2 linked regions of the Homo sapiens genome follow. The protein of the gene in region 1 purifies or fractionates together with the protein of each later gene. This does not show direct contact. Each region holds a gene or a part of one and is shown on either strand. Other genes may lie near its edges.

Region 1 (2,807 bases):
TTAGTACTATTAATAATACCTTTTACACAAATATTTTTGACTTTAAAGCACTTTCATGTAAAAAGTAACTATGACTGTATAATTGCATAGAGCAGACTTAAGCTGTTTGACACCTATGTCTCTTTTGTGTCTTCTGTTTAAACTTGGGCCAATTCCTGGTGGATATTAGTTCATATTACAAAATTCTGATGTTCCAAAAAGTAGAATATATATAGAGATCAAACATTCAAAAGATACATTCTCTCCTAAGCTCAAAGGTTATATTTTTATTGGGTAGAACAGTATAGGTAAGTTGACATGAAATTGCATCCTGCACCATGACCACATTAGTAATATCAGAACTTTTGAGAAATACTGGATTTTGAATGGTTTGAGACTAATTCTTTAAAAATTAGGCTGAGCAACACTCACAATCCAAAAATATTCATATTAAGACTTACACATTTGAAGAATGGTACATTTTGTATAAAATCATATTTGATACCATTATTTCCACATACCTACTTTTCATCTGTTGCTTAATTTTTTCTTTTTAGAGTTCTTGCTCAACTTTATATGGAACAAGTCTTATTATTTTTGAAAGAGTGTTTAGTACCTTGTATTAAGAAACTTGGCCAAGCGTGGTGGTTCACTCCTGTAATCCCAGCACTTTGGGAGGTCGAGGCGGGCAGATTGCTTGAGGCCAGGAGATTGAGACCAGCCTGGGCAACATGGTGAAATCCTGTCTCTAAAATTTAAAAAAAAGAAGAAGAAGAAACTCGAGACTACATCTTCAAAAAACAACTTTGCAGTATTTGAATTTTACATTATACTGCCCTTCATTTCTGACAGCCAAATAACTTTATTGATATTTATTGCTTTTGTAGTTGTTATAACTAATAATTTCTTTGAAAATGTGTTGTAGTTTATGTTTTTCAAAGGGTTTTGGTAGTGTTTGTGATAGAATGGTTTTGCATATGATTATTATAGGGGATATATTTATAGAGCTCTACTTGTATACTTTGTGACTTACATTATGAAAACTTCAAAGTTCTCAATCCATACAGTTAGTATTTGTATCCAGAGTGTTTAAGAAAAAAATCTGTCTTATATTTTTAGTATATAGGAGCCAGTGTTGCTTCTATTTGTTTTGAATACAAATTCCAGTTTTCTTTGCATATTAGATCCCATATGTAAGAAACAACCTTAAACAATAATTTGTATGCTGGTAATATTTGGACAAGTGCCATAAATTAATGTATATTGTACTTTCTGAATAGATTTTCTCTAATCATAGCAAAATTTATTTCAAAACTACAACTCTTTGAATTATTCCGCTATAATAAAATTTAGTTATAAAATTATGTGGCACTACTGAAAATCTAAAGGATAATCTGAAGAATGAGTAAGACAGATATTGATAGAAATTTTTAGTATTTTCAGAATGTTTGGGTTCATACACATAAGTGAAATCATTTTAAAAACTAGGGGCTGGGCACAGTGGCTCACACCAGTAATCCTAGCACTTTGGGAGGCCAAGGCAGGAGGATTGCTTGAGCCCAGGAGTTTGAGACCAGCCTGGGCAACATAGCAAGACCCCTTTATCTATAAAAATAATAATAACTAGGTACCATTGTGAAAAATAATAACTAGGGATTGATTATAGTATCTTTACTCTGTATTCACAAATCTCTGTATTCCTGAACATATTTAATCCTTTGATTTACCTCTGACTAGGTTTGTCATTGTAATCCCTGGGCTGCTTAGGAGGATACCATTTGGTTTGATGAAAAAGCTGGAATGATAATAGCTCAAACTCTTTTGAGCATTTAGTACATGCTTGGCACTGTTCTATATGTCTTAAGTTATTCACTCTTGTATTTAACCATCAACACTCTTATGAGGTAAATATCCCGCAATTACTTTTGCGCCAACCTAGTACCACTACAGACAAGGAAACAGATGCAGAGAGGCTAAGTTACAAGGGCACACAGCCATAAACTTTGGATCTGTGGAGTGACTGGGCTTCAGAGTCCTCTTCCTGACTGCTGTTCCTATGTCTTTTGCAAAGAGAAGTCTTTGACAGGTATATGCTTTATTAAAATCATGTTTAGAAAGAAATGAGAGAATAGAATTAGAAAAAGGAATGACTGTAGGCTTCGATGAAAATGACTTTTGTGACTAGGTGAAAATTGTTTGGCTGGGTATCCTGGAAAATTGTCTTCTGGGAATATCTATATTCCAGGGTTCACTTTTGTCATAGAATTGTTTCTTGGCCCATTTAAGAGAGATACTTTGTTTATTAATAAATCAAACGTTTTAATTTTAGACATCTGTGATCAGTTCTTTTAAAGAGACTATATTTATTTAAGTACTTCCCAAGTTTAGTGCAGGGGTACTACCTACCATTTATTCAGGATCATAGAGGATAAGTTAGGGTCAAAGAAAATAGAGACTGCCATGACAGCGGCTTGCTTGCTTTCTCCCCAGGAATAATGCACAAATAATTTATAGCAGCTGATATTTTTCGGTGTTAACAGATAATAGGGGAATTTGCTGAAATTTTTATTTGGAGCCTCGGATTTAATTTTAGGCCACTGGGCTAATTTATTTTTAAATGTAAATTAATTCCAGTACTTTATTTGTAAAGTTTACTTGAGATCTAACTGTTCTAAGACATGCTGTTGCATTACAAATAAGAATTGCTGCATTTATTTTGATCCCATTGCCAGAGGCAAAATTAGTCAAAATTTAAAGGTATGTAGAAATACTTTTGTAATCCTTCTAAACTACATTAAATTTCTGGCTGACTGGTGGCTCACACCTGC
Region 2 (3,500 bases), on another chromosome or scaffold:
TGCAGCGAGGGGTTGGTTATAGATGGAGGCACCCGTGTAGCTTGGAGCTATGCTGCAACTGGTTTCCTGGAGAAGGTGGTTTGGAAAGTGGAACCTGAAAGATGGACAGGACTTGGGAAGTATGGAGGAGTAGGGCCAACATGAGGTTGAAGAGCCTGGGGTACATGTTGGGGTGAGTGGGACACGCCAGTGCCTGACACGTGCCTGCCGCCAGGTTTTAGGTACCTAATAAATCTTTGCTGAAAGGAAGGAAGGAGCAGGGCGGGAGAGGTCAGGCTCAGGTGGAGGCAGGAATGATACTCCAAATATTAATAACCATCCGGCATAGGGACTGACCAGTCAGAAAGGACACTGGATATAGACAGCCAGCACCGCTGTACCGGTGCATACCAGTGAAGGGATGGTGCAGAGGCCAGTATACCAGTGAAGGGATGGTGCAGAGGCCAGTTTGAGCAGAGCATGAACTTCCAGTTCCACCAGGGAACCAGCCCAGCCCGTCTGGACCATGGTGTGAAGCAGCAGAGGATCAGGCCCTAAGTCAGATACACTGTGCTCTGAGCCAGACAGTGTCACTGGGGGCTGCCTGGAAGAGGTGATGGGTTACCAGAAGAAGGCTCCTCTCTGTTTTGTAAAGTCAGGTCCATCTGGGGGACTAAGCAAGCAGGGATCACTGAACCCCTGTTCTGAAAAGAGGAGAGGGGTTTTGCCTTGCCTGGCCCAAGCCACATTGAGGGAGTGAAAGAGCTGTGGGCGGTAGGCCAGGCTGCGTGTCTGGGGTCTTGTCTGGGGCTGGGTACCCTGGGGCTTTGGGGTCCTTCTGAGGGATCCAGACTCTTCTGGGACCCAGCCACACCTAGGTGGAAAGAGGGGCTACGGATGCGCTCAGCATGGCTTCCAGCCACCTTTGTATACCTGGAGCTGGGCCGCTTCCACCACGGTTGCAAGGATGGAGGAAAAGCAGAAAGGACTGGGGAGACTGGTGGGGTGGAGGTTTCTTCCTTGGAGAGCTTGCAGAGATGCCACCTGCCAAAGCCTGGGGACCAAAGGAGGGGGTTCTTGTTTTAATTGTTCTTATAAAGGTAATACACACCAGAGAGAACATTCTAATAGTTCTAAAAGGTGTGTACAGTGAAAAGTCTCCAATTTACAGCATTTTGTTATAGAAAAAAAAAAAAAGTAACTCTCCATCCTTCCCACCCTTAAGTTTCCCCTCAGAGGCAGCCTTCATTATGAGTTCTTTTTTTTTTTGAGACGGGGTCTTGTACTGTCACCCGGGCTGGAGTGCAACGGTGCAATCTTGGCTGACTGCAACCTCCGCCTCCTGGGTTCATACGATTCTTCTGCCTCAGCCTCCCAAGTAGCTGGGATTACAGGCGCACACCATCACACCCGGCTAATATTTTGTATTTTTAGTAGAGATGGGGTTCACTATGTTGGCCGGAGTGGTCTTGAACTTCTGACCTCGTGATCCACCCACTTCGGAGTCCCAAAGTGCTGGGGTTACAGGTGTGAGCCACCGTGCCAGGCCCATTATGGGTTCTTACTATATTCTCCTTGGGTCGGGCCTGGTGGCTCACACCTGTAATCCTAGCACTTTGGGAGGCCAAGGCGGGTGGATCACGAGGTCAGGAGATTGAGACCATCCTGGCTAACACAGTGAAACCCCGTCTCTACTACAAATACAAAAAATTAGCCACGTGTGCTGGCGGGCGCCTGTAGTCCCAGCTACTAGGGAGGCTGAGGCAGTAGAATGACATGAACCCGGGAGGCAGAGGTTGCAGTGAGCTGAGATCGCACCACTGCACTCCAGCCTGGGTGACAGACAAGACTCTGTCTCAAAAAAAAAAAAAAGAAAAAATGTTCTCCTAGAGATGCTGTCTAGGAGATGTTATAACACATGTACAGGCATATGTTATATAGAACTATACACATTTACTCACATTCACGGCCTCTCTAATAGTTGTAGTTGCATATCTATTTTATTTATTTATTTTGAGACAAGAGTCACACTCTGTCGCCCAGGCTGGAGTGCAGTGGCACAATCTCAGCTCAGTGCAAACTCTGCCTCCCAGGTTCAAGTGATTCTCATGCCTCAGCCTCCCAAGTAGCTGGGATTACAGGCACCCACCACCACGCCGGGCTAATTTTTGTATTTTAGTAGAGACAGGGTTTCGCCATGTTGGCCAGGCTGGTCTCAAACTCCTGGCCTCAAATGATGCACTGGCCTTGGCCTCCTGAAGTGCTGGTATTACAGGTGTGAGCTACTGTGCTTGGCCTGCATACCTTATTTTAAAGCTTCCTTTATTTTTTTCACGGTGTCAGGGTATTCTATTGTGTAGATGTAGGATAATGTATTTAACCAGCTTCCCACTGATGGACATTCAGATTGTTTCCCATTCCTTGATACTACAAAAAAAGGCTACAATGCATAGTCTTACAAATGGGTGTTATCTGTAGAGCAGATTCCTAGAAATGGAGATTTTGGGTCAAATGGTAGCCATGTAAAATTTTAATCTAGGCCGGGTGCGGTGGCTCACGCCTGTAATCCCAGCACTTTGGGAGGCCGAGGCGGGCGGATCACGAGGTCAGGAGATCGAGACCATCCTGGCTAACAAGGTGAAACCCCATCTCTACTAAAATAGAAAAAATTAGCCGGGCGTGGTGGCGGGCACCTGTAGTCCCAGCTACTTGGGAGGCTGAGGCAGGAGAATGGCGTGAACCCGGGAGGCGGAGCTTGCAGTGAGCCGAGATCATGCCACTGCACTCCAGCCCAGGTGACAGAGCGAGACTCCGTCTCAAAAAAAAAAATTTTTTTTTTAATCTATATTGCCAAAGTGCCCTCTGAAGATTATAACCATACCAATTTATTTTACTTTTTTGAGATGGAGTCTTGCTGTGTTGCCCAGGCTGGAGTGCAGTGGTGCAATCTCGGCCCACTGCAAGCTCCGCCTCCCGGGTTCACGCCATTCTCCTGCCTCAGCCTCCCAAGTAGCTGGGACTACAGGCGCCCACCACCACTCCTGGCTAATTTTTTGAACCATACCAATTTATACTCCCAAGGGTAACATACAAGAGAGCCCATTTCCCCTCGCCCTTTCCCACATTCTGGCTTAGTAAGACTTTTCTCTTTGCCTGTGTGATTGGTGAGAAGGTGTCTTAAGGTAGTTCACTTTTACATTTTTCTCAAGGTGGTGAGGATGAACTCTTCTCATGTTTAAAAGCCATGTGGTCTAAAGCCAGAAGAGAGAACTGTTAGACTCATGGGGAAATGGGTTTGGTGTGAGTAGCTCCAACAGGGAATAGTTGGGTCTTAGAGGAAAAAACTACAGTTTGTCTTGGAGGGAGCCTCCTCTTGCTAAGACCCCCACCACCAGGGCTAAGGATTGCTTAAATCAGTGGTGTTCAAACCTGGTTCTGAGCTGCCTTCTCAGGGGCTGAGGATAGGGACAGGACCAGACCCTGGGGCTCTCACCCCCAGCCTGGGCCTGAGCAGCTTCTTG

Evidence for each region. The genes of interacting proteins can lie anywhere in the genome.
Region 2: the proteins of SRSF12 (region 1) and KIF1C purify together in Homo sapiens (affinity purification with mass spectrometry, with the first as the bait; one large-scale study listed by BioGRID). This does not show direct contact.

The regions. Positions count from the first base shown.
Region 1 is NC_000006.12:89,095,459-89,098,265, reverse strand, and holds the end of SRSF12 (serine/arginine-rich splicing factor 12), read left to right. Parts: 3' UTR 1-2,307; downstream 2,308-2,807. UniProt on the Homo sapiens protein: Splicing factor that seems to antagonize SR proteins in pre-mRNA splicing regulation.
Region 2 is NC_000017.11:5,007,950-5,011,449, forward strand, and holds part of KIF1C (kinesin-like protein KIF1C), read left to right. Parts: intron 1-3,500. UniProt on the Homo sapiens protein: Motor required for the retrograde transport of Golgi vesicles to the endoplasmic reticulum. Has a microtubule plus end-directed motility.